Linked DNA regions of Homo sapiens. The protein of the gene in region 1 purifies or fractionates together with the protein of each later gene. This does not show direct contact. Each region holds a gene or a part of one and is shown in the gene's direction. Other genes may lie near its edges.

Region 1 (7,029 bases):
TTCCTCTGTGTTTCCAGATTAGTTGATTATGAACAATAGTTACAATACATTGATTTTGTTTCTACACCTAAAGTTTATGATGTTAACTTTTTAAAAAATAAAAAATGTATTTAGTACATGCTTTATATGATTGGAGGGATAATGAAACATAATTATTTAAAAATAACATTTAAGTTGTGCCTGTAACTTTGATGTCTTTGATGCAAATCATAAATGTGTGGATTTTGTTAGGGCCTATTGTAATGTTATTCCCCAACAGACTAAAACACTGTGTATTTATATATGTATATATATAAATATATATGTATATATATTTTTTCTTTCTGGGGGATTACTTTCTTTTAGATGATGGATTTAGAAGAGGTAATACCCCTGGATTGCTGTCGCCTTGTTAAATATGATGAGTTTCATGATTATCTAGAACGGTCATATGAAGGAGAAGAAGATACACCAATGGGGCTTCTACTAGGTGGCGTCAAGTCAACATATATGTTTGATCTGCTGTTGGAGACGAGAAAGCCTGATCAGGTTTTCCAATCTTATAAACCTGGAGGTGAGCAATTTTACACTATTTTTAGTTGTTCTGTACTTAGAATTTTCATGAGAAAGTTTTTTTTTTTATTGTAGAAATGAACATAATTTAAATTTTGTATATGGTCTTAAAATGTAGAATAATTTTGACAGGTTGAGAAGTACTCAGCAACAGCTTGGAATTAAGTTCTAGATTACTTGCAAAGAGTTGTGTACATAATTTTAAAAACAACAAAAAACAACAAAGCTTCTAGCTTACGGTCTTCAGTGGGTTTTTTCTTCTCCAGTGGGCGGTACTGAATCATTCTGGATGCTGTCAATCCCTAAAGTTATCAATTGCTCTCTTAGGAAGATCTCTCTTTCTCTTTCTTTCTCTTTATGGAGAAGACCTTGGTCCAAAAAAGTATATTCCCATAAAGTCTCAGAAGTAGAGGCTGTTTTTCAGGTCTTCTTTGGAAGGGTGGATTCATTATCCCATCACTGTCAGCATTTACAATTTTTCGTCATCCTCTCTATTTCTACAGGTCCCAGGGACTTCATCTTTTCTTTCTTCATTAAATCTATCACATTCACTCAGCACATTGAGTTTGTTATTTTTTTTTCTTTGAGACTGCTTAGGAAAACCAAAATATCATGCCCCTAGTTTTCCCAGAGACAGTTTCCCTATAGACAGTTACATGGTCTGTTTTTGTCCAGAGTTTTCTATAATTACCATATGTAAATTGTAACAAATAGAAGAAAAGCAGAATGTTTATATAATTTTACAAAATCCATACTGTTTTGTCTTGGCCCTAACTCCTTTGCATCAGTGGTTAGTGAGAATTAGGTTCTCTGTGTTTTTTCCCTAAAAGTTGAACTTACAAAACTTTATTCTGCCCTTTTACAATAATGTTCTTCTGTGGATCCTGTATATCTCCTTTTTAAATGAAGGCCTCTGTTTACAGAGTAGGTTAGATGTAGTATTCTTTCAAGGAGTCTACGGCTCTTAAGTGGGAAAATTTTATTTCTGGAAACCTTATGATGTCTACTTCGACTTCTAAGACTCTACCCTATCTATAAAGAGTCCCTTAAGGACATTTCCTTGCTTTTTTTTTTTTTTTGCTAGACAAGAAAAAGAATGATTAGGATATAACATGAGTCAGCAGTAATACCACTTATTTGAAAGAGAACTCTAAATGCAAGTGTGGATTGTAAGACTTATAAAGTAGTCTTTATTCATTAATAATCAAGATCTTAGCAGAATATTTTGTCAAATTTAGATTAACAACGTAGGGAAAAAACTGAGGATTGACATAAAACATGAGGTTAAAACAGATACAGAATAACTGTGTATTAAGTACAATGTTTGAAGATCATTTATTTTTCAAGTGATTAAGAGTTTAATTGTAAACATAACCTTCTGAAAACAGAAGAGAATGGGATTAAATTTCAATATAAAAGATTTAAGTGAGAAAACAAAGGCATAATCAGAACAGTTTTTGTGTGGAATTTTCCTTGGGATATAGGAAATATTATTTTGAGGATAAGTCTTTGATGATGAACAAGGTGGCTTAATAAGGGGTTTGTTCAAAAGCAAGCAGGAGTGCTGTGTCACCTTTAATATTTGTTTTGCAGTAACTGGTGATTTATATTTATTCAGTGTTGTTTTCATCTGTACTTGGAAGTTTGGATTTGTCACCTGTTAGAAACACATTAAGAATGCATTACTCATGTGAAATACATTAAAAAATAACCTCCAATTCTGTGTTTATGTCTTCAAATGTGACAGAAGTGATGGTGAAAGTTCATGTTGTTGATCTAAAGGCAGAATCTGTAGCTGCTCCTATAACTGTTCGTGCTTACTTAAATCAGACAGTTACAGAATTCAAACAACTGATTTCAAAGGTAAGTTTTAAAAGGGGTCTGTAAATAAATTTTTGAGAGCCTGCTATGTACAAGACACACTATGTGACAGTTATGAATAAGATACATGCTTTACCTCCAGGAGCTAATTAATATTTGTAGTTAGGAGACAACTGTAGTTAAAAGAAACAGATTGAGTAAAGTGTGGAGGTAAGAAAGTGTAAGGCAAGTACATATAACAACTTATATGTGTTGGCTGGATTATCATAAAATACAGGATTGGAAATGTAAGTACAGTTTATTTCATGAAGAGCTTTAAACAGTAAACACGAAAGTTTGGGCTCCTTTTTGGCGTAGGCAATAAGTCGAGTTTTTGTTTTCGTCATTTTTAAGTGCGGCAATGCTGCATTTAGTGTCTGGTGACACTAGACTAGCGTTCCACATGCCTTGAGGGGAGTCAGGAATGGAGAGGAGGAAGCTGTTGAAATAATTCAAGTGCAGTTGTATGACTGGAAATGAGAGAAGGCATGGATTCCAAGAGAGATAGAATCTGTAGGACTTGTAATTGTTAAATGTTGGGGTAAAGCAGATGCACCGATGACCTGAGCCAGGGGTTTCAAACTTGGGTAACCAGAAAAGTAGGGATACATTAATAGAAATAGAGGAGGAAGGTGAGGCTGTAGACTTGACAGGGAAGGTGATGAATTAAATACTGGTGCCATTATGTGAGCTAGTGATAAAGAACATAGGCTCATTCCGATTTTTTGAGCTGGAAAAATATAACAATGAAAACATTCAAATTTTGGGGGGCAAAAGGATTAGTCCACACCAGACAAATGATTATCATCCTTACAAGGGTCCTGTACTCTGCAGAACCCTGAGCATACAAACGGCAGATTTTGCAGGGTTCTTGAACCGTAGGTTAATATTCCCTGGTGTAGTGGAAATTGTTCCATAATTACAAGTTGAGTCCAGTTTTCAGTCATTCATCTTATGGTAGTCTTGTCTTTCATCTCATTATCTGGGGTTGTAAATACCTGTTTAGCAGAGTTGTAGTGAACATTAATGAAAAATAAATAAATGCTCTGAGGAAAAAAATTGTAAGGCATTATGTAAGAGTTGGTGGTTATTATGTTCTAAAAAAAAGTCTATATTTTGACTTCTGTATATGACTTCTAACAATTTTGCTAAAGTAATAACCAAGAAACAAATCATTTTGTGAAATTATATTTTATGATTAAATTGCTTGTAAATGCATACTATGTTGGTATAATATACTGTATATTACATTTTTAAAATATGAATGACAAATGTAAAAAAAATTAGTTTAATAAGCACTCACACATAATACAAAAGAAAGAGACACAGTAGTTTCTTCCCCAAGAAGTTAATAATCTTACTGAGAAAAATATGTCTATAGAGAATAAAGGCAGTCACAAAACATCATGTAAACAAATACAGTATTTTTAACCAGCCTGCTTAAGAATTAGGTATTTATAACTGATGACCTTAGTTGCATTGAAAAGAAATTGTGTTTTTTAAATGTAAAGTATTTTTATCTGCTGCTTTCATGTCAATTTATAAAATGACTCCAAAAATTAAAGATGTGGACTTTCAGAAAAACTTAAAATTTTCCCTACTAATCTTCTCATTTTACACAAAGGAAAATTGCTTATTGCTTTAATAAAAGTATTAAAAACTATTCACAGACTATAGAAAGGCCTGTCAAAAGCCAAGAAGTTCAACATTTTGATATCAGCAGTCAAAAAGTCAGTTACGCAGTTTCTTTGGAATCAGATCACTCATTTACTTGGCAAGTTTGAGAGCAATAGAGATTCTAGGAAAAAATCCTTACCTTTAAAATAGTTTCAGAGCATACATTTATAAATGGTACTTTGTTCTCCTGATTTGCAGTATAATTTATGGCTATAAGTAATTTTTCCCTTCAATTATTCAAAAATTTTAAAACCTCTACTAAAATTATGTTTCTCTCTGCTGCTTTTAAGAAGAACTCAGCAGTGTCTTGCTTTCCCATATTTTTAAGTCAAGCAGAATTATTTTTGAAAGAGTACTTTTTATTAAATTGCTTTCATTATAGGCCATCCATTTACCTGCTGAAACAATGAGAATAGTGCTGGAACGCTGCTACAATGATTTGCGTCTTCTCAGTGTCTCCAGTAAAACCCTGAAAGCTGAAGGATTTTTTAGAAGTAACAAGGTATGTCATTTACTTTTTCATTACTATTTTCTATGCTGGTAGTAGTAAATGAAATTAGGTTCAATATTATAAGCCTGGCCTCCACAGCTGTTCAACATCTGTCTGGAACTTAATTTAAAATTCTCAACCCAGTAATTACCTTCCTTTGTAGTCAGGTCAGGTCAGGCTCCCTTCTGTCCTGTGAATCAGTCCTACTGGTTCTCCTCTTCTTTGCCTTTGTTCATGTGCACTCCCACCTGGAGTGTTCTTCCTCCTCTCCCTGCATTTTTTTTTTTTCAGTCTCCAGATTAGTCCTACCTCTTTGGTGAAGACTTCATAACCATTTCTTCCCACAGTGATTATGTCCCCTGGATTGTGTTTATTCTTGAGCTTGTCCCATAAAGCAGTGCTTCATGGTGAGGGTCAGAGGCATACCTGGTATAGAGAAAATTATAATCTTGAGTTCACCCAACATTATTCCTTTTGCCTACTTATTTTTCTCTGTTGGAAATGAGAAAGTTCATGTTAATCCTCTTCTTTTGTCTTGCTATTATTATGTGTTTGATCATTTATCATTTTTCATATGTGTTTTTATCACTCTAGTCTCATTCATCTTAGTACAGTCTAGTCTTTTATCTCATTTAACTTTTTTAGTATTTTATTACTAATATGTAATTTTTATTCACCTACACTTCTAAAACTTTTGTGTGGTGGGGGAGGGGATGTACGTGTATATGTGTGTGTATATGTAAAACATTAAAATTTCTAATCCCCTCCAGTACATTACTTTAGGGTAAGAAGTGCAGTAGGGAAACTTTTCTTTTTCCTTAAACGGTTAGCGTACTGGTTTCAATTTGTAACATTTACTGAATAGGATAATGATAGTGTTATCCTTTTATGCAAAACCCAACATGCTATTTATAATTGCCAAATTTATGCCAAGTACGAATTTCATTTTAAAAAAAGATTTATTATGGAAAATTTCAAACGTAAACAAAAGTAGAGAAAATAGGGAAAATAGAGTGAACCCCCACACATCCCCATCTCTCAGCTTCCACAGTGATCATCTCGTTTCATCTATAATTTAACCACCTACTTCGCCCAGATTATTTGATAAACTTCCTCAGGATCATATCATTTCATCTATAGATAATATGAACATATATATCTAAATGAAGAGAACTCTTTTAAAAAAATGACAATTACATTATATACCTAAGAAATACCTTAATATCAGTCAATATCTAGTCAGTGTTCAAATTTCTCTGATTGTCTTAGAAAATTTTTTTCTGTAAATTTTCCTGTGTCTTTTTTGTTTGCTTCCTTGCAGTTTGTTACAAAGCCAAGTCATTTGCCCATTAAATTTTTCCATGATCTGGATTTTGGTGTTATATTCACAAGGTGTCTTTACACATGTTCCTGTGTCTGTAGTTCAGGCTAAACTTGGATTTCCTAAAGGTGAAAGATTTCTACAATCTAAAGAAAAACCAGAGTATTAATTTCCTAAAGAGAAGGATATATAATACACAACTTTCTGAAATTGGACAACCCAATAAACAAGATGTTTGTGTGTATGTGTATGTCCATACCGTCTATCTTAGTGTAGTTTTATGGCTAGTTACAAAGACATTTGAGCCTAATGTTCATTTTATTCAGTCTCCAAAACAATAGAGTCCTTCAGAAACTATATCATCACACATGTTATAACATAACTGTGTATTGTGTTGTATTGATGCAATATAATGATGATGATGAATGAGCATGTCACTAAAATTAATATATAATAAAACTCTGACTTACTATGTAGGTGTTTGTTGAAAGCTCCGAGACTTTGGATTACCAGATGGCCTTTGCAGACTCTCATTTATGGAAACTCCTGGATCGGCATGCAAATACAATCAGATTATTTGTTTTGCTACCTGAACAATCCCCAGTATCTTATTCCAAAAGGACAGCATACCAGAAAGCTGGAGGCGATTCTGGTAATGTGGATGATGACTGTGAAAGAGTCAAAGGACCTGTAGGAAGCCTAAAGTCTGTGGAAGCTATTCTAGAAGAAAGCACTGAAAAACTCAAAAGCTTGTCACTGCAGCAACAGCAGGATGGAGATAATGGGGACAGCAGCAAAAGTACTGAGACAAGTGACTTTGAAAACATCGAATCACCTCTCAATGAGAGGGACTCTTCAGCATCAGTGGATAATAGAGAACTTGAACAGCATATTCAGACTTCTGATCCAGAAAATTTTCAGTCTGAAGAACGATCAGACTCAGATGTGAATAATGACAGGAGTACAAGTTCAGTGGACAGTGATATTCTTAGCTCCAGTCATAGCAGTGATACTTTGTGCAATGCAGACAATGCTCAGATCCCTTTGGCTAATGGACTTGACTCTCACAGTATCACAAGTAGTAGAAGAACGAAAGCAAATGAAGGGAAAAAAGAAACATGGGATACAG
Region 2 (6,671 bases), on another chromosome or scaffold:
TATATATATATATATATATATTTTTTTTTTTTTTTTTTTTTTTTTTTTTGAGACTGGGTCTGGCTATCTTGCCTAGGCTGGAGTGCAGTGGCAATCATGGCTCACTGCAGCCTCGATCTCCCAGGCTTAAGTGATCCTCCCAGCTCAGCCTCCCAAGTAGCTGGGACTACAGGGATGTGTCACCATGCCCAACTAATTTTTGTACTTTTTGGTAGAGACAGGGTTTCACCATGTTGCCTAGGCTGGTCTCAGAATTCCTGGACTCAAGCTGTCTGCCTCTCCTAGCTTCCCAAAGTGCTGGGATTATAGGTGTGAGCCACCCTCCCCAGCCCGTCTTAACCTCTACTACCTTATTTGGCAGGAGCCAGTGGTCCCCCCTTTCCTCCACAATAACTTATTTTTGTTTGCACTTAATGAGTTGTCCTATAGTAGGTCTAATAAAATGTGTGATATAATTGGCAGTGCTGTTCACTTTAAGAGCAGCTTTTGATTAAATTGGGCTCCTTCCCCATATTTAGACTTCAGTGATCATAATGCTGAGCTTTGCATACCATTAAGAGTTAGTGGGTTTGAGTAAAGGTGTTTTAATAATATTTTAAATAAGTACCAGTAAGTACTAATAATATTTTTTTTGTGTGTTAGAGGTTACAATCAAAAGTTTTAAAATTAGTTGATATATCCTATGGTGGTGAAAATGGATTCAACCAAGCTATTGAGTTATCTACTGAAGTCCTCTCCAACGTGAAATTCATTCAAGAGAAGAAATTAATAGGTATCGGTGAAATGCAACTACTTATTCTGTGAAATGTTTTCGTGTGTGTGTGTGTGTGTGTGTGTGTGTGTATGTGTGTGTGTGTATGTACGTGATTGTATGTATGAGACAAGGTACCAAAAATGTAAAAAGGAATATTTAGTATTTTTATTAACTCTTTTGCCTCAGTAAAAGCATTATTTTTTATCTTCTTTAGTCATTAGGTCGAATAGGTGTGTTTGTATCTACTAGGGAAACTTTAATATATATCCTGTTGACTGATCCCTAATCGTAGGACGATACTTTGATGAAATCAGCCAGGACACGGGCAAGTACTGTTTTGGCGTTGAAGATACACTAAAGGCTTTGGAAATGGGAGCTGTAGAAATTCTAATAGTCTATGAAAATCTGGATATAATGAGATATGTTCTTCATTGCCAAGGCACAGAAGGTATGAGAATTAGAAAATAAGGTTGCTATTTGTTACTGAGCCAGGAAGCCTGGGGTGGAGATTTGGGAGGGATGGCTGATTTCAGGAGCAATCAGAAGGTAGATCTACCCATTGTTCCCCAGTCCTTCAGTCTGTAGCACATTCCTGCATAGATTTTTCTGCTTGAACTGTTTAACGTCTGCTTAAGATTGTTACATCTGCTGAGGACCAGGACTATATCTTGAACATCTCTGATGTTCCTTATGGTTGAAGCATTGTACCTAGTAGACACTCAGTGTATGCTAACATGTTTATGGAAAAAATGTTGAGAGATTGAGTCCCTGAGCCCTTTTCTCATCTAACCTCATCTTATGGAGCTTACACAGATTAGTATATGAGAGCCAGGTTAACACATTTTTTCCTCCTAATACTACAGAGGAGAAAATTCTCTATCTAACTCCAGAGCAAGAAAAGGATAAATCTCATTTCACAGACAAAGAGGTATGTGATTATTTTCTTGGTTTGATGATACGTGCAAGCGTAAATCCGTGTGTTAGAGTACTGGCTGTGTAGAGGGTGAGCTTTGGGAAACCAAACCTTATACTAATTGGGGGTGCTGTGGGAGGTGGTCATCTATCTGCCACATACGAATCTGATTTCAGGGAAGGAGCTGCAGCTTTTTTTTTTTTTTTTTTTTTTTTTTTTTTTGAGACAAGGTCTTGCTCTGTTGCCCAAGCTGGAGTGCAGTGGCATGATCTCGGCTCGCTGCAACCTCCACCTCCTGGGCTCAAGTGATCCTCTTGCCTCAGCCTCTCTGGTAGCTGGGACTACAGGCATACACCACCACGCCCAACTAATTTTTGAATTTTTTGTAGAGAGGCGTTTTCACCATGTTGCCCTGGGCTGGTCTCAAACTCCTGAGCTCAAGCAATCCACTTACCTCGGCCTCCCAAGTGGTGGGATTACAGGTGTGAGCCACCATGACCGGTCTTTTTTTTTTTTTCTTTGAGATAGGGTCCTGGTCTGTCACCCAGGCTGGATTCAGTGGCACAATCATAGCTCACTATAACCTCGAACCCCTGGGCTCAGGCAATCCTTCTGCCTCAGTCTACTGAGTAGCCAGGAGTACAGGCACAAGCCCTCATTCCCTTTTTTTTTTTTTTTTTTTTTTGAGGTGGAGTTTGCTCTTGTCACCCAGGCTGGAGTGCAGTGGTGTGATCTCGGCTCACTGCAACCTCCACCTCCCGAGTTCAAGCAATTCTCCTGCCTCAGCCTCCCGAGTAGATGGGACTACAGGCGCCCGCCACCACGCCTGACTAATTTTTGTATTTTTAGTAGAGACTGGGTTTCATCATGTTGGCCAGGCTGGTCTCGAACTCCTGACCTCAGGTGATCCACCTGCCTTAGCCTCCCAAAATGCTGGGATTACAGGCGTGAGCCACCATGCCAGGCAGCCTAATTTTTTTTATAGAAATGGGGTCTTGCTGTGTTCACCAGGCTGGTCTTGAACTCCTGGGCCCAAGTGATCCTCCTACATTGGTTTTCCAGAGTGGTGAGATTACAGACGTGACCCACCATGCCTGGCCTGGTTTTTGTTTGTTTGTTTGTTTTTGTCTTTGTTTTTAAGTAGTTAAGCAATCAGGAAAACATTTCATTATCCTTGAAATTTAATAGGGAGGAAAATGTAATTTACATAATGCCTCTCCTGCACTGTGAAACCTGTGCTGCTTTCTTCACTTGATCAGCTCTTCCACTGCAGTGGCTTCTCTGGTTTGCTCTAAGTGCATCACAACAGTTGAAAGTATGACCCTCCCGTATGAGATAGGTTTAAATGATAGCTTCCTCAAATTCTGGTTTGGAGAGCTTTGTTCTCTACGAGGCCACTCCCAAAAGCAGTCCTGGAATGTCTCTTCTGAGCCATTGAATGGGTGCTGCTTAGAGACACTACAACAGCCTGACTTCTAGAGTCAACAGTAGGAATCATAAGCTGAATACCCACTGAGTTTTTGTGTTGGTATTTCATAGCTGAGGGTAGAGCCTGAGGAGAAGTGTTGTTTGAAATAATCCGAATTTCTCTGCTGATATCCATTAGGTTATCAAAACCAGAGATGACTTACAGAGCTTTACACACAGACATGCCTATAAATGGGAGGATGAGAGTGATAGGTGGGCAAGGGGCTGTGAGAGGGACTAATTAGCCTTCATATATCCTAATCCCCCATTTTTGTATCTCATGGTCATCCCTGTAGACCGGACAGGAACATGAGCTTATCGAGAGCATGCCCCTGTTGGAATGGTTTGCTAACAACTATAAAAAATTTGGAGCTACGTTGGAAATTGTCACAGATAAATCACAAGAAGGGTCTCAGTTTGTGAAAGGATTTGGTGGAATTGGAGGTGAGTAGCAAATCAGCAAACCAAACTTAAAACCAGGGTCTCAGGTCAAGGTCCCTCCTGGCTAGCCCTAGCCCTGCTTCCGGTGAGGTGCTTATTATCTGCTGGGATAGGTGATTGACGCAGCAGGTGCAGGTTCCTAATTTGGACCCATGTTTATTATTACCTCTTTGCTTTCTGCAATTCTGCAAGAGAATAGGGCTTCCCTTATTCCCTTACCAGCCACCTACACACATGCCCATCCCATGAACACAGGTAATTTACCTTTTGGTTTGTTTCCCCAGGTATCTTGCGGTACCGAGTAGATTTCCAGGGAATGGAATACCAAGGAGGAGACGATGAATTTTTTGACCTTGATGACTACTAGGTAGTCGACATGGGTCCGGCAAAACGTGCCTCACCCTCCAGCATCCAACCCAAGGAGCATACCCATGGTGGAATCCAAACAGATCCCTGCCTTACAATTGGAACATTTCCAGAACTTAATCCATGAGCATTGGATATTGAAAAGAAAACCGAAACAAAACCAGACCCAGCCCTACACTTTGGTTTGTCATGGTGTCAGCGCAGCAGCCTACAACTAAGTTCCTAAACGCCACTTTGGACTAATTTAAAAAAGAATCCCAGTTTTTACTTTTACTGGATGGTGAAATTGGTTGCTCTTGTATTTTATGAAAAAAAATGATTTTTTTAACCTTCATACATAGAAGCAAAAATACTTTAACTGCTGTAAACCTTCAAAAGTTAATAGAAGTGAGATCATACTGGTTTGTTTCTTATTTTGATTGGAGAAAAATTAAATTGCTGCATTTCGCAGTGACCCATTTACATGGCATTCTCAGCTTAGACTGCGTAAGAAGAAATATATGTGGTGAAATGTTGGAACCATTTCTCTCTTGGTCTCTGTTTAATGTTGAAAGGGTGAGCTAATAGGAGGCACTTTCAACTTCACTCCCTCACGCTACCCCGTCCCCCTCCAGACTGGCAGTTTCAAGGATGCAAATTGCATTGCAAAATCAAACTGACTCATGAAGCATTTGGGCCAGTGCACTGTTTACTTCCATCTGTTTGCAGACACATTTGTGCCCGGCGTTTGGGAGCCCTTTGTATCAATGTTCTGACAAGGGTCCCTATAACCTTAACCTACTCGAAACCGGTTTGGGATGGATATGATGGGGCTTCTGTGCTATTGCTGGGATTGGGAGAAATAAAACATGCAATTTAAGTGGAAGCGAAGAAATTTAAAGAGGATTTTATTTTGCTTGGGTCAATCCTTGTTAAAAGGGAGGTGGATGTGTTTTCCTTGTGTTGGATGGCATGAGATTATGTGAATGTTTTGATTTATTAAAATGAACTGCAAGGTTTTTCACAGGAACGACAGACATGTATGACTGCATGTAATTATAAACTCCTGACCTCCTGGTGGGGTTGGAGCATCTGTTTCAAATGTGGGACTTACAAGCACTTCTCACATGAGAAATTAGGGGCGGGTGGGAAGGGATGGGACACAGCTTCTGGCACCATGGATTTAAGACCATGTTGGATCCAAAAGTTGGCCTGAAACCCTGAAGCTTATGCTTCACAGCTGGGCTGTAAGTCAGACTTGAACCCAGCTGATATGCAAGGTCATGGCGTGCCCAGGGTGGTGACAGTTGAACAAAGTGTATAGTACGTGCCCAGTGGTAGCGATGGAAAAAAGTATACCAAATGGACTTTGAAGGACCAAAGGTTTTAAAAGTCAATTGGTATCACCTCCACACTGACTAGGGTAGTGGGGTGCATTTGGTTTTCAAATTGGGTACTTTTAACACTTTAGTGCCTGACTGCTGTTCTTTACTGACTTGATTCAGTCACTCGTAGCTTTATTGGTCTGAACCAGCTCCTTGTTCCCAGGTTACAGACCTGCCTATCGTTCCAATAATCCTGTTTCACTTGAATGAAGGGAGTATGTCTTAAATGTAAAGTTTCTGGTTCTCACACTGTACTCTGAGGTCCAAATACTGTCTGTCAATGTGTAACCTGATGTCTCAACCCCCTGTGAGAAGAGTCCATTATTTGGTGTTCACCAACGTGGGAGACTTCACCGGAACAGGCTTTTTTGCTTTGGGCTCTGCTATTTGTTTGCAGAACACCCAAGAGCGAGCAAACATGCTCTCTTCACAGCAGTACCTTAGGGTTTTGCCATTGTAAATGGGTCTGATGTGATATGACAAGACCAGAGAAATTGGATGTAAATTTACATTTTTGAATATGCTTGTTGTTTCACATGATACATTTAGGGTATGCAGCTCCTTTTGTAGTTTTTATTTTTACTATTTAAGTTTGGAAATGATGCCAAATTTTTGTATTTCTTTAATCAATGTGTTCTCTTCGGTGATATATATTGCATTATATATTGATGTGTGTATCAATATATATTGATATGTATTACACTTACACATACAAACACATATAAGAGGGGGTGAAAACCGTAGCCTTTGCATTCTCTATAGCCTCTGCAGAGAGATACTAAGCAGCAAAATCTTGGTGTTGTGATGTACAGAAATGGAGAAGAGTATTAAACCATATTTAAGAATATACTTTGTGTGCTTGAGATTTTTTAGGACTGGTCTAGAAAGGCCTGAACTGTGGAGACAGTTCTCCAAGGCATACCTCAGATTAGTCACGGCCAATAGCATTTCAGCCTTGGGTTTGAGTTGTGTTTACTACATTTGTCTATGGAAAGGTATATGCAAAGTTTTTCTGAGGTCATGATCCCAGAGTTATGCTAGAAGAAGAAGGTTCAGGTTGCTGGGGCCAAACTAATTTGTATTCTCCCCCATTCTATATGCATGCCAAAGGGAATCTTGCTTTTTTTTTTTTTTAAGGTATGTTAAGTATATTATCCCATAACCCAGCATCCCATGGAGGTAGATGGTGTACCCAATTTTACAGGTGATGAAACAGAACAAAAGAAGGTTAAGTAGCAGCTCTTTAGTGATAACACCAAAATTTTATCCCAGGCCTTATTCCAAAGTTCTCTCTGTATCTGTCTTTGAGTCCTATAATAGAATGGTCCAGATGGAATAGCAGAAACTAGGCCTGGGCCCTCTCTCT
Region 3 (7,029 bases), on another chromosome or scaffold:
GGGAAACTGAGGCAGTAGGATTGCTTGAGCCCAGGAGTCCTAGATCAGCCTGGGCAACATAGTGAGGCCCTGTCTCTACAGAAAAAAAAAATTAAAAAAAACAGGGAAAAGTATTAGTGACCTTGAATTAGTCAGAGTTCTTTTAGATAGGACACATGAAGCACAAATCCACTTAAAAAATTGATAGACTTGGCCGGGCACGGTGGCTCACACCTGTAATCCCAGCACTTTGGGAGGCCGAGGCAGGTGGATCACAAGGTCAGGAGATTGAGACCATCCTGGCTAACACAGTGAAACCCTGTCTCTACTAAAAATACAAAAAATTAGCCGGGCGTGGTGGCGAGCGCCTGTAGTCCCCGCTACTCAGGAGGCTGAGGCAGGAGAATGGCATGAACCCGGGAGGCAGAGGTTGCAGTGAGCCGAAATCACGCCACTGCACTCCAGCCTGGGTGACAGAGCAAGACTCCTTCTCAAAAAAAAAAAAAAAAAAAAAAAAAAAATTAATAGACTTCATTAAAATTAAGAACTTCTGTACTTTGAAATATGCTACTAAAAAAGTGAAAACGCAAGCCACAGACTGAGAGAAAAATATTTGCAAAACATGTATCTCAGAAAGAACCGATATCCAAAATACATAGAACATTTCACACCTCAATAAGAAAACAAGCAACCCTATTTTTAAAAAATGAACAAAAGATTTAAGAAGACGTTTCATCAGAGATTAAAACATAGTTGACAAACACATGAAACAATGCTTAATATCGTTGATCATTAGTGGAATTCAAAATTAAAATCACAGTGAGCTTGGGCACAGTGGCCCACACCTGTAATCTCAGCACTTTGGGAGGCCAAGGCATGGTAGTGGATGCCTGTAGTCCCAGCTACTCGAGAGGCATGAGAATCGCTTGAACCTGGATCACTTGAAACCGGGAGGCGGAGCTTGCAGTGAGCCAAGATCATGCCACTGCACTCCAGCCTGGGCAATAGAGCGAGACTGTCTCAAAAAAAAAAAAAAAAGAGAGAGACAATGATAATTAAATGGAAGACCTGACTCTAGATTTGATCCAGGAAGGAGATAAAATGCCATAAAGTACTTTTTTTTTTTTTTTTTTTGAGATGGAGTCTCGCTCTGTCACCCAGGCTAGAGTGCAGTGGCGCGATCTCGGCTCACTGCAAGCTCCGCCTCCCGGGTTCACACCATTCTTCTGCCTCAGCCTCCCGAGTAGCTGGGACTACAGGCGCCCGCCACCACGCCCGGCTAATTTTTTGTATTTTTAGTAGAGATGGGGTTTCACCGTGTTATCCAGGATGGTCTCGATCTCCTGACCTCGTGTTCCGCCCTCCTCGGCCTCCCAAAGTGCTGGGATTACAGGCGTGAGCCACTGCACCCAGCCAAAGTACATTATTGAATCAGTTGACAGAATTGAATTACATACAGTAGATTCGATAAAAGTATTGTAGGCCGGGCGTGGTGGCTCACCCCTGTAATCCCAGCACTTTGGGAGGCCAAGGCGGGTGGATTACGAGGTCAAGAGATTGAGACCATCCTGGCCAACGTGGTGAAACCCCGTCTCTACTGAAAATACAAAAATTAGCCCGGCGTGATGGCACGCACCTGTAGTCCCAGCTACTCGGGAGGCTGAGGCAGGAGAATTGCTTGAATCTGGGAGGCGGAGGTTGCAGTGAGCCGAGATCGCGCCACTGCACTCCAGACTGCCAGTAGAGCGAGACTCGTCTCAAAAAAGAAAAAAAAAATTATTGTATTGATATTAATGTTACTGAGATTGATAACTATACTGTGACTGTATAATGTGATATCCTTATTGTTAGGAAATACACACTAAAGTATTTAGGGATAAAGGGCTATGATATACATGTAAGTTACCCTTAAGATACCCTTAAGTTTCTATCATACTTTGTGTATATATGTACATATGTACAAACGTACACAGAGCACACAAGTAGTAAAGCAAAGGGATAAAATGTTGACCGTAGGTATGTCTGGGTAAAGGGTATAAAGTGCTTTATATGTTATTTTTATTTTTGCAATTTATCTGAGAATAAAATCATTTCAAAAATTTAAGTTATTAGCATTCCACTTGTAATGTTTTTCATAGAACTTCTGGTTCAGAAGTTCTTAACTGTTTGAATGTAACCCTTTTCAGCTGGAAGACCTTGATTCACAAGGGAAATCATCTTCAGTTGAATTGGATGATCAAAAGAGGCAAAATCTTTTCTTAGCAGATTAGCTTTGTCTATTTTCTACCACAAATGCTCTTCCTTCCCATCCTCCGCAACTGTCAATTAATGAAAGCTACATCTGAACAGGCTTCCCACCTTTTTCAATTCAAGCTACAGTGGGTTCTTAAATGCTCAATGAGTGTCAGAAGCAAATAATATACTCAGAAGATGAAATTTTCACATAAAATGAAAGTTTTACTAAGGTATCTTGCTTCACTTCGTCATCAGATCTGGGAGCACAGATGGTGTATTTGGACCAGTTAAAAACCCCTGGAGTTATTCAAAACAATATAGAGAAAAGAGGAAGCAGAATCCCCACAGCGAGAATGAAGATTCAGACTGGCTGATAACTGGAGGAAGCTCAGGTGGGAGTGCAGCTGCTGTATCGGCGTTCACATGCTACGCGTAAGATGCTTTTCTCTATCTGTATTTTAAAACCCACCCAAATACAAACAGTCATAAACTGTATCCAGCAATAGAGTAGTTCATATCCTGGTATTTTTCTTTCTAGTGAGCTATATGTGCTCAAAGGTATATCAAAATTATATCTTGAGTTGCACTCAACTGTACAGTACACTATGTATATTTAATACTTTTAACTTTAAAATAACAAATTTTTCTCCATAGTATCTGGTTCTCTTAAAATATGATTTTGTGGATCTTGCAGAATAAAGCATCGAACATAAATGAACTTCATTGCATTTCATTTTTAAATAATTTGAGTGTGTGCTCACTGATTATACAAATATTTAGGGACTAACATACAATGGCTTTAGTTGAGTGCTGCTGAACTAAACTGTTGGTAATGTTTATCCTTCAGCAAGATCAATCTTTTGAAAAAAAAGAAAAAATGCTAATATGTATTAATAAGATATTTTAAATAGTGTTTTCAGGAATCTGCAATTAAAAATGTACATCAGTAAGTAAAGTTTTTTCAAGCTTGTTAGGTGCTGATTCTGTTTATCTATCATACTTTGTATTTGGTAAGAATCCATTGATCATATTTTCAGTTCCATTTGTAAAGCATTTCTTAACTACCCAAAGAAAAGAAAGTAAATATGGCTGTTGCTGTGTTTATCAGTCTCAATTTAATCAAAATGAATGTGTTTCTTTAGTAATAGTTTTGTATTTTATCTCCCCTTAATTATCCATTAAAACTAAGTTCTTTCACACACATTGCAATCCATAAATCATTTATATTTTTTTAGAGCTATGGAGATGTGAGTTCTACAGATTTTTTTTCAGTTTTCCTAAAATCTTATTAACAAGTAAAACCATTTCATTTTATCTCTGTGAAATTTTATAGCATTGCATTAATATTAATGTGAGTTCTGACAAGTTAGGACTGCAGGATTAGGTGCTTTTTTTCTGTCCTCATCATCCCACTTAGTGTTCATCTTTCTGAATGTGCTTTTTAGTAGATGGCATTTTGACACATAATTCCTATGGAAATGTAAGTTTTACTTTTACATAGCCGTCAGTGAATGCTAATAAGAAAATGTATCTTTTAAAATTGTGAAAGCAACAGTCTGATTTTGTAGCTTAACTTGACACTGTAAGAAAGGAAATCTAATTTGCATTTTCTGTAGGGCACAAGTGCCATGTTATTGTTAGGAGCATTGTTCAGTCCAAAGCTTCACTTTAAATATAAGCAACAGAAGTACAGACCAAAAATAACTTCAGATTGAATGTATCTCAAACTGTAAAGTGTTCTGCTTTTGTTTCCTTATTTTTGATTTGTTTACCCCTTTTTGATTTGTTTACCCCTTTTTGATTTGTTTCTTTTACAATAGCTTTTAAAATAGGAAGATTCCTGGAGTACTGTGCAGCCACTAAAAAGAATAAGTTAGAGCACTATGCAATGACATGGAAAAATAACCAAGATAAATTGTTAAGTGAAAAATAAGTTGCAGAACCCATTTCTGTTAAAAGTAACAATTGCATAGGTATATATGTCAGTCATTGCATGGAAGTACTGCATGTCTGGATGAATGCATGTCAGAACTGGTAACGGTTATTGTGGGGGCTGTGATTCTAAGAGTAATCTTACTTTATACATCATATAGTTATATAATATTTTAATTTTTATAGTAGATATGTACTGTTCTACAGCACAACTTCTGTTTTCCTGAAATGGTTTTTTAATTGTGGTAAAATGCACATAACATAAAATGTACCAGCCTAACCATTTTTAAAAGTACAGTTCAAAAGTATTAAAAACATGCAATCAGTCTTCAGAACACTTTTCATCTTGCAACGCTAAAACTGTGTACCCTTCAACCCTCTCCCAGCCCTGGTAACCACCTTCTACTTTGTGTCTTATGAATTTGATTACTCTAGTTATCTCATGTACGTGGTGTCATGTAGTATTTGTCTTTCTGTGACTGGCTTATTTCATTTAGCATAATGTCCTCCAGGTCCGTTTTTTGTTTTTTTAAAATAAGAACAACACAAACTCTGTAGGTAACTGGGTAAAGAAATGAACAGTCACTTTGTAGTTGAGTAATGCATGTATAAATAAGTGTGCAAAATTATTTAAAATGCACATTAATAAAAACTTTTTGGTTATCACACTAACAATTTTAAAAATTACTAGTACTCAGTGACGGTACTGAAACTTTAAAACACAATCTGACTCACTGCAACTAGGGATATAAATTGGCATAATCTTTCTGACAAGTAATTTGACAGCATATATCAGAAACTTATGTGCACTAAGTCTACTTCTTGGAAGCTAGCCTAAAAAGTACTCACACATAAGCAAAAATTTATGTTCAGAGATTTTCATAACAAAGTTATTTATTAAATAGTTATTCTAGTTAGAAACAACGTAAGAGTTTAAATTATTAAACATCTCAATCCATGATTCTAAATGGGGTGGGTAGCAAAGGGCTGTATCTGAATTTCTAGGAGGGGCGTATTTAGTCTGTAAAAGCATACTGCAAAATTGCCATTAATTTGATTTGTTTTCAATATCAACATCAGAAGAAAGTGCAAGATTTATATGTATATTGAAAGGAGAATGGACTTTAAAATACCAGGAATCACGAATTTATATGATGGAATATTACATATACTTTACATTTTCAGGAATTTTAATGACATAGTAAAAAGCTAATGTTAAAAAAGGGATGGAAACTCATGATTACAGAATTATCTCAACGGTGAAAAAAATGCATTTTTAAAAAGACTTGAACTTAATATGCCAAAATGTTAACAGTGTTTTCCTCTGGGTATTGGAATATTGAGTACCTAAAGTTTTCTGTACTTTATGAATTCTCTGAGATGAACATGTGTTACTTTTGTGTAATCAGAGGAAAATACAGTTTAAAAATATACAATTGAAAGGGTAGATTCCAAATATAATTAGAGATATATCATTCTTCTAAAGATAATTCCATTTAAATTCCAGGGCTTTAGGATCAGATACAGGAGGATCGACCAGAAATCCTGCTGCCCACTGTGGGCTTGTTGGTTTCAAACCAAGCTATGGCTTAGTTTCCCGTCATGGTCTCATTCCCCTGGTGAATTCGATGGATGTGCCAGGAATCTTAACCAGATGTGTGGATGATGCAGCAATTGTGTTGGGTATTTATATAATTCTATATCATTTGCAACAGCTTCTCTATAAAACAATATATCTGTCATTCATAAGTATTGCTCCTTACAGGTGCACTGGCCGGACCTGACCCCAGGGACTCTACCACAGTACATGAACCTATTAATAAACCATTCATGCTTCCCAGTTTGGCAGATGTGAGCAAACTATGTATAGGAATTCCAAAGGTAACTTTTTCCTTTCATTACTTTACAGAAATACTGTCAAGTCCAATAGAGAGCACAGACTTGGGAGGCGGATTGGGTGGGTTTGAATCTCTGCTCTGCCACTTTTATTAATCATGTGAGTTGAGTATGTGACTTAATCTCTTTTAGCTCAATTTCCCCATCTGTAAAATAGGAATAATAAAAATACTGACTTCAGAGAGGTTTGTGAGGATCAATTAGACAGTCATGTTAAGTCTGTAAATTGTTTCTGTAATGGGCAAGATAGCAAATATTTTAGATTTTGTGGACCATGCAGTCTTTATCATAACTGCTTAACTGCCATTATAGTGAGAAAGCAGCCACAGACAATATGTAAATGAAAAAGTGTGTCTCTGTTCCAATAAAACTTTATTTTCAAAAACCAGCTGGCTTGTCACATCTGGCCTATGGGCCATAGTTTGCCCATCCCTAATGTAAAGAAAGGACTTTAGCCCAAAGCCACAACTTGCATAGTAATGCCTCAAAAAATGTTAACATCTTTACTGTTATTATTATTACTACTGCATCTATTACAGTAGCAATTGAGTAATGAATACATGAATGTTATAATGTTAAATTACTAACCTTTTAAAAATATTAAGCATTGCAATATATTAATACTTTAAATCTTTTAGGAAGATAAGTTACCCTGCAGAATAATGAAGTTTCACAACCTCAGCACTGTTGGTGTTTGGGGCTGGTAATTGTTTGTTGTGGGAGACTGTCCTGTGCATTGTAAGATGTTTAGTAGCATCCCTGGCCTCTACCCCTACATGCAAGTAGTACCCCACCACCAAAACCACAATCCCACAACCAAAAATGTCTGCAGACATTGTCAAGTGTCTCCTGGTTAGGGAAAAGGAGACAAAAGTAACCCCCAGGTAAGACCACTGCTATAGAGAAATACTACCTTATTTAAAATCTTCCATTAAGGTAATATATGTAAGGCCAGGTGCGTACACCTGTAATCCCAGCACCTTGGGA
Region 4 (7,029 bases), on another chromosome or scaffold:
ATAATAGCAATGTTTTCTATCTGTGCCATCCAACAGGTAGCCGCTTGGTATATGTGGCTATGGAGCACTTAAAATGTGTGACTAAGGAACTAAAGTTTTAAGTAGATAGAATTGAAAATTTAGTTTCCAGTTTTTACCAGCTGCAATTCAGGTGTTCCAATAGCCACACGTGGCTAGTGGCTAACTTACTGGACAGTGCAGAGTTAAAAAAAGATGCTCTTCCAAGCATCAATACCTAGCTTCCGAATATCCAGGCTTATTTCATGAACTGAAAATGCCCCCACACTGAAAGAAAAGGATTCTGTGCCCTAATGTTCAGATTGATTAGCCCTGTAGGTTCTACCTAGGGTGAAGTCATTTTCCGTAGCTGAGATGCTCACAGACTGTCTCTGAGTTGCCTTCAAAATATATGAGATTTATAAAAATTAACTTTTTTTCTTGCTTAAATACTTCTATTCCTGATGTGTTGTCTTTCCATTTTCTAGGAATAATTTTTAATTTATCCCATTTGAGCTCTGTTCTAAGTAGAACGTCTCCCCTTCTTTATGGACTAGTTTTGGTGTAAAGTGCTCCTAAATGAATGTTTTTAATGGTGTTTTGTATCTTGGCCTGAATGTAGGTAATGGGCTTTTATTGCAGAATTACTTTAAGACTTTCTGTAGATGTCAAAACCAGCCAAACAAGTGAAAAGTTTTGATTAACCAGTTGTTTAAATTTTACTCAACAACTAGTTTGACCAGTTTGGAATGGACATGGGTAGTGAGTGAAAGGACCTATTTCTGTCGTATAGGAAGGACATCTGAACAAGTGAGTTGTCCCCCAGGATTGGGATGGAGGGGTGTGCATGTTGTGTGTATTGTGACTGTGTGTGCTCAAGAGCTCTAGGGTTTTGTCATATCACCTTGACACACATGGTGCTTATGTTGACTGTTGAGGATGTTGAATATGGAGGGATACAGTTTATCCTAAATAAATCCCCATTGTTAAGTTCTGGGGTGATGAAAATTAATTGGCATTGTAAACAGTGAAAACCTTGGGTCTCAAGCCCCTTAGATACCTTGTTTGTCTACTGAGAAGTATATATCAGGTCTTGAATGTCCACACTGACATTTTACAATATGGATTCTAGGTTTTTTTTTTTTCAACATAAAGTGTATGGAATTTTAAAGCTTCACTTAATGAAATTTGCTTTGTTGAAGTTCTGTTTTGCTTTCGAATCTGCTAACTTGCATGGGATTATAGGTGTAGTAGTTTCACTTACATCAACTTTGCAGAGCAAGGTTTGCTTTAACAAAAAAGCACGTTTTGCCATAATCATACCTTTGTAGCAACAGTAGATATTGTAACTACTGACACTTTTGTTCTGCTTTTGAATAATAATTAGAAAGTTGAAGAAAGCTCCAGGTTCCTAGTATTCTTATCAGTTGGCCATCTAAACTAGGTTATTACCAGAAGGTTAAGACAATTCAGGGTATCCATATTTAATTTTATGAGCATTTAAGACATCAGTTTCATCAGTTTAAACTGTAATGTGCTATTAAAATCATGTTTTTAACTTGGGTTACTCTCCTGTAGCTACATTTTTTTTTTTTTTTTTGAGACGGAGTCTCTTACTCTGTCACCCAGGTGGGAGTGCAGTTGGCGCGATCTCGGCTCACTGCAACCTCCGCCTCCCAGGTTCAAGTGATTCGCCTGCCTCAGCCTCCCAAGTAGCTGGGTTTACAGGCGCCTGGCACCACGCCCGGCTGATTTTTTTTGTTTTGTTTTTTTTTTTTTTTTTTTTTTTTGAGACAGAGTCTTGCTCTGTCACCCAGACTGGAGTGCAGTGGTGTGATCTCGGCTCACTGCAAGCTCCGCCTCCTGGGCTCACCCCATTGTCCTGCCTCAGCCTCCTGAGTAGCTGGGACTACAGGCGCCCGCCACCACGCCTGGCTAATTTTTTGTATTTTTAGTAGAGACAAGGTTTCACCATGTTAGCCAGGATGGCCTTGATCTCGTGACCTCAGGTGATCCACCTGCCTTGGCCTCCCGGAGTGCTGGGATTACAGGCGTGAGCCACTGTGCCCAGCCTCCTGTAGCTACATTTTAAAATGTCAGATCTTATGCCTGCTATGTCAGACATATCAATGCTTTGTACATTTCAAAAGAAACAACTGGTTTCAGAGAGAAATAGAGTTACTCAGGTGTGTTAAGGTTGATAAAGAGCTTGTGTTTTTCAGGTACTTTAGCATTGGAGAAAACTTTGTGTTTTGAAACATCTAATTATGTTCTTATTTATTTCTTTTAAAAGAAAATTGGAACCAAAAATTGTAGGGATGTAACTTTATAGTTGAGAAATTATGTGCATAGAAGCCAGGGAATTCAGTAATGTTCCCCAAAGCAACTGTAACTCAGACATATTGCACGAGGTTTTTATGGTTTAATATATGATACCATATAGAGTAATAGGGAATAACCACATTTCATATAAATAAGAGAGAATTATGGTTTTTGTGAAAGCCCTAATTTTGCATATCTAGATTTCACACGTGTGTAAATTTTCAATAAGAGTGTAGTGTTAATGTATACTTGTATTTGAGCTAATATCTATTGGTGCACCTAGAGATTCTTCTATATTATTGATTATGGTTATTGGAGTATCAGAGAAATTCTCAGTTTAGGAGCAAAATTACAAGAAACCTTTTTTTTTTTTTTGAGACGGAGTTTTGCTCTTGTTGCCCAGGCTGGAGTGCAACAGCATGATCTAGGCTCACCACAACCTCTACCTCCCGGATTCAAGCGATTCTCCCACCTCAGCCTCCTGAGTAACTGGGATTACAGGCATGTGCCACCACGCCAGGCAAATTTTGTATTTTTAGTAGAGACGGGGTTTCTCCACGTTGGTCAGGCTGGTCTCAAACTCCCGACCTCAGGTGATCCGTCCATCTCGGCCTCCAAAAGTGCTGGGATGACAGGCATGAGCCACCACGCTCGGCGAAACCATTTTAAAATTGAAACCTAACTCAGTCTTTTTTTTTTTTTTTTGAGACAGAGTCTTGCTCTATTGCCCAAGCTGGAGTACAGTAGTGCAATCTCGGCTCACTGCAACCTCCACCTCCTGGGTTCAAGCGATTCTCCTGCCTCAGCCTCCTGAGTAGCTGGGACTACAGGTGCCCACCATCACACCCGGCTAATTTTTGTATCTTTAGTAGAGGTAGGGTTTCACCATGTTGGCCAGGCTGGTCTCAAACTCCTGACCTCAAATGATCCACCCACCTCGTCCTCCCAGAGTGCTGAGATTACAGGCATGAGCCACTGCGTCCGGCCAACTCAGTCTTTCATTCTGAAATATTTGATAATTAAAAGTGAGTTAGAAGTTGCTCATTTTTGCAGTAGAATAAATAAAAGCCCTAGTTTCAACATTAACACTGACTGCTTATCCTTTAGGAATTCTCTTTGGATTATCTTAATTTTTACTATCAATTAATTACCCTGGTTTAAACAACACAGCAATGAAGATGGCCCATTCTTTTTCTTTTTCTTTTTTTTTTTTCCGAAATGGTATTCCCAAACCTATTCCTTAGGTGGTCTTTTTAAACATATCTACTTGACCCCCCAGGTAGATAATACTTGTCTTAATGTTTTTTTAGGAGCAGCCCAGGGCAAAAGAATTGTGAATTGAGAATTTCTTTGGTGTAAGTTAAATTCTTTTCTTTTCTTTTTTTCAGCCAAATCAAATAGAAAGCTTACTTTTCTGTATTTAGCGAATGATGTCATCCAAAACAGTAAAAGGAAAGGACCTGAATTCACTAGAGAATTTGAATCTGTCCTTGTGGATGCTTTTTCTCATGTTGCCAGGTATGTTGTCTGTTTTTTGGATTTGTTTTTAAATTCATTGCCTTTCCCACCTTTTTGTTCTTTCCTTTTCTGTGATAGCCTTTGTAAATTGACAACTTCCTACTTTACAGAGAGTTGTGGAGGCCGAATTGTGGTTTTATGTTTTGTTGAGCCCTCAAGAACTATCGAGACATGTAAACATTCTGATACATTTGAGAGATTCAGCCTAGCATTATCTTTCTTCTAGATATATTCATTTTCATTTTTTGAATTTATTTCTTGGTTATGGTATTTTCCTTGGTTTGGTTGAGTTGTCTCATCAGCTTATGATCAAAAAACAAAGCTAACTAGTAAGGGAACCTTTTAGTAACATAACTTAATAGCAAGAAATTAATTGCCAAATGCCTTCCTTTTTATTTCCTTCTGGATTTCTAGATGTCTAGTTTACTAAAAATAGTAGGCATTACTGTAACTGCAATAATAGTAATTATTAGTGTAGAAAGTAGGTGTTTGCTCTGGCTATATTGTATTAAGCCTGGTGCTGTTGTGTTTTGTGGCAGAGAGGAGTGGCACTCATACAACTAATACCATAGAAAGCATACATTGGATTAAAAGTTTTATAAATTACTTTACTTCATGTAAAAACAAAAGCTTTCTGTGGGCTTAAATTAGGTGCCCAGGAAAAGCAAAGAAAAACTATCGTTCATTAGAATATTATGTTTATAAGTAAATATATAAACAGATATTTGCAAAAGGAATTGGGAAACATGAATGGGAGACTAGTAGGTTAAACATAAATTGTTACTAGGTCTAAAATATAGTGAAAGGCCTTAAATGAGAAATGAAGTCCTGCTTTCATTGCAGGATTTGAAAAGTTTGAAGGAATAAAATTAGAAATCCAAGAGAAAGAAATGACACCTAGCTTTCTAGAGATGAAAAAGATGGTTTTTGTGGATAAGTTACATAACTGGCTCACCTTTTGATCAACATGGGCGCAAGTAGCAAAATGTGTTATTAACTTGAAAAAAATACTGAATCTTCATAACAGAGTAAGCTTAGAACAGACTACTAGAGGAGCTATCTGAAATAGACAGATTTTCTTGCTTTGATGAGATTTAGTTCACAGTTGCTTAGAAATTGATGGTAGCTCTGCCTCAGACACTATGTGAGTGACCTTGGATGTGTTACTTAACTTTTTGAGCCCAAATTTCCTAACTGGCTAAAGGGGGAGGATACCACTCCCCCTCATAAGAGTTGTGAGGGTAAAGACAGACAATATGTTTAAAAGTATGTAGTACAATGCCTGTTCCACATTTGCTCATTCATTGGATCATTTGTTTTTTCCTATATTCCAGGCACCTAGTAAAGTGTCTGGCACAGAGCTGCTGAGTTATGTAGCTTGAAGGAATACCATTTATATAGCCTCCATGTAAGTGGTGTCCCAGGAGCTGGGCAACATTATGGTCTGCCCTGACACAGTAGGCGTTCAGTAAATATTTGTTAAATGAGTTAATTAATGTTAACTCATTATGGAAGAGATTTGGTCTAGGGAGTTGGCTGGAATGATTTCTTGTAGGGATAGTAAACATAACAGTGTTATTAAAAAATTCCAGCCTGGGCAGCATAGTGAGACCCTGTGTCTACAAAAAATTTTTTAAAAATTAGCCAGGCATGGTGGTGTGCACCTGTAGTCCTAGCTACTTGGGAGGCTGAGGCAGGGGGATTGCTTGAGCCCAGGAGTTCAAAGCTGTAGTGAGCTATAATCATACCACTGCACTCCAGGTTTAGCAACAGAGCATGACCCTGTCTCTAAATTACAAACAGACAAACGATCTGTAATCTTTAGCTGTCCTGAAACCAAAAAGTAAATAGAAAGGGGTGGAAAAGGGGGTGGGCAACACCAGGGTTAAAAATTCCTTTTTTCTTGGGAACACCTTAAAAACTAGCCAGGTTTTAGGTGTCTTGGCAGATTCAGTGGCAGTGTGAGGAAGATAAACCTGGTCCTTCTCAATAAAATAGCCCGAATTCCTTTCTGTTTGCATTCTGGTTCTTTTAAGATTCTGCTTGGGTATTACATTCAGGATACCCATGTTTCCAATCTCCTTTCTTATACCCCATTATTGGGACAGAAAGTCCAACAGTTCTGCTTCAACCGTGATGCAGCTCGTCCACAGTAGGAGTAGCCTAATTAACATATACTTTCTGTGTGCTTTTTCTGTGGTCAGTTGATGAACAAAGATAGTTGACCCATTACTGTTGACTAAATTGATGAGGGATATTTTTATGATAAAAGACACCTCCACACCCAAAACAAACAAACAGTAAAAAAAACTCTCAAGTCAGAGAAAGCTGCCAAGTTCATAGGATAGATTTGATTTGAATAGCAGTTTAATTAACCAGACTGCAAACTTGCTTTTCATACAAGTGCCTTGTTTTCTTCCCAGTGAGGAGACAGCTGTCCATGTCATTTTTCATTCAACATGTATTGGAGTGCCTTCTATGTGCCAAGTATGGATCCAGACACGGGGGGAGCAGCAGTGAACAAGGCAGGCAAAGACAATTAAATGAGCAAGATACTTTCAGAGCAGGACAATATGGACATAGTAAAATGGAGTGATGTTCTAGAGTAGGATCTCACAGGTAGTGTGGTTCAGGAAGGCCTCTAAGGAAATGACATTTGCGGTAATCATGCGAAGCGGGAGCAGCTATTAAGAAAAACTTAAGGCAGAGATCATCTTGGCCTTCTAAGAGAAACAGAATGAAGGCTGGTGTGGTTAGAATATAGTGCACAAAGGGAAAAGTGATATCCAGATGAGGTCCGAGAGGTGGACATGCAGCAGTCACATACACCCTGTAAGTCTTGGAAGTTAGGATTTTTTTCTCATGGGATGTCATTGAAGAGTTTTAACCAGGGGAATGATATATTCCAATATATTCCAACATACATTTTTAAAACATCCCTCTTTAAAAATGGCTTAGTGTAGAGGGATGGATTGTAAAGGCCAAGGGAGGGGCGGGGACATGAGTTTGGAGGATATTGCTGTGATGCAGGCTAGAGGTGACATTGCCTAGGACTCAGAAGCAATGGGAAGATACTAATAGCTTCCATTTATTGAGTGCTTCCTTCGTGGGAGGATCCCCACCTCTCCAGTGTAAAACTGATAGGATTTATAGGCGTTGAGTGGGAGCTGGTAGTAAGTGAAAAGAGAAATC

What was found.
Region 2: the proteins of USP47 (region 1) and ETF1 purify together in Homo sapiens (affinity purification with mass spectrometry; 2 studies listed by BioGRID and IntAct, with this or other methods). This does not show direct contact.
Region 3: the proteins of USP47 (region 1) and QRSL1 purify together in Homo sapiens (affinity purification with mass spectrometry; 2 studies listed by BioGRID and IntAct, with this or other methods). This does not show direct contact.
Region 4: the proteins of USP47 (region 1) and RPRD1B purify together in Homo sapiens (affinity purification with mass spectrometry; 2 studies listed by BioGRID and IntAct, with this or other methods). This does not show direct contact.

What each region holds. Positions count from the first base shown.
Region 1 is NC_000011.10:11,935,958-11,942,986, forward strand, and holds part of USP47 (ubiquitin carboxyl-terminal hydrolase 47), read left to right. Parts: intron 1-345; coding exon 346-553; intron 554-2,299; coding exon 2,300-2,415; intron 2,416-4,471; coding exon 4,472-4,591; intron 4,592-6,377; coding exon 6,378-7,029. UniProt on the Homo sapiens protein: Ubiquitin-specific protease that specifically deubiquitinates monoubiquitinated DNA polymerase beta (POLB), stabilizing POLB thereby playing a role in base-excision repair (BER). Acts as a regulator of cell growth and genome integrity.
Region 2 is NC_000005.10:138,505,576-138,512,246, reverse strand, and holds the end of ETF1 (eukaryotic peptide chain release factor subunit 1), read left to right. Parts: intron 1-642; coding exon 643-772; intron 773-1,046; coding exon 1,047-1,202; intron 1,203-1,617; coding exon 1,618-1,682; intron 1,683-3,430; coding exon 3,431-3,578; intron 3,579-3,859; coding exon 3,860-3,942; 3' UTR 3,943-6,152; downstream 6,153-6,671. UniProt on the Homo sapiens protein: Component of the eRF1-eRF3-GTP ternary complex, a ternary complex that mediates translation termination in response to the termination codons. The eRF1-eRF3-GTP complex binds to a stop codon in the ribosomal A-site.
Region 3 is NC_000006.12:106,646,556-106,653,584, forward strand, and holds part of QRSL1 (glutamyl-tRNA(Gln) amidotransferase subunit A, mitochondrial), read left to right. Parts: intron 1-2,469; coding exon 2,470-2,646; intron 2,647-5,653; coding exon 5,654-5,829; intron 5,830-5,911; coding exon 5,912-6,027; intron 6,028-7,029. UniProt on the Homo sapiens protein: Allows the formation of correctly charged Gln-tRNA(Gln) through the transamidation of misacylated Glu-tRNA(Gln) in the mitochondria. The reaction takes place in the presence of glutamine and ATP through an activated gamma-phospho-Glu-tRNA(Gln).
Region 4 is NC_000020.11:38,036,728-38,043,756, forward strand, and holds part of RPRD1B (regulation of nuclear pre-mRNA domain-containing protein 1B), read left to right. Parts: intron 1-731; exon of another isoform or gene 732-1,380; intron 1,381-3,707; coding exon 3,708-3,837; intron 3,838-7,029. UniProt on the Homo sapiens protein: Interacts with phosphorylated C-terminal heptapeptide repeat domain (CTD) of the largest RNA polymerase II subunit POLR2A, and participates in dephosphorylation of the CTD by RPAP2. Transcriptional regulator which enhances expression of CCND1.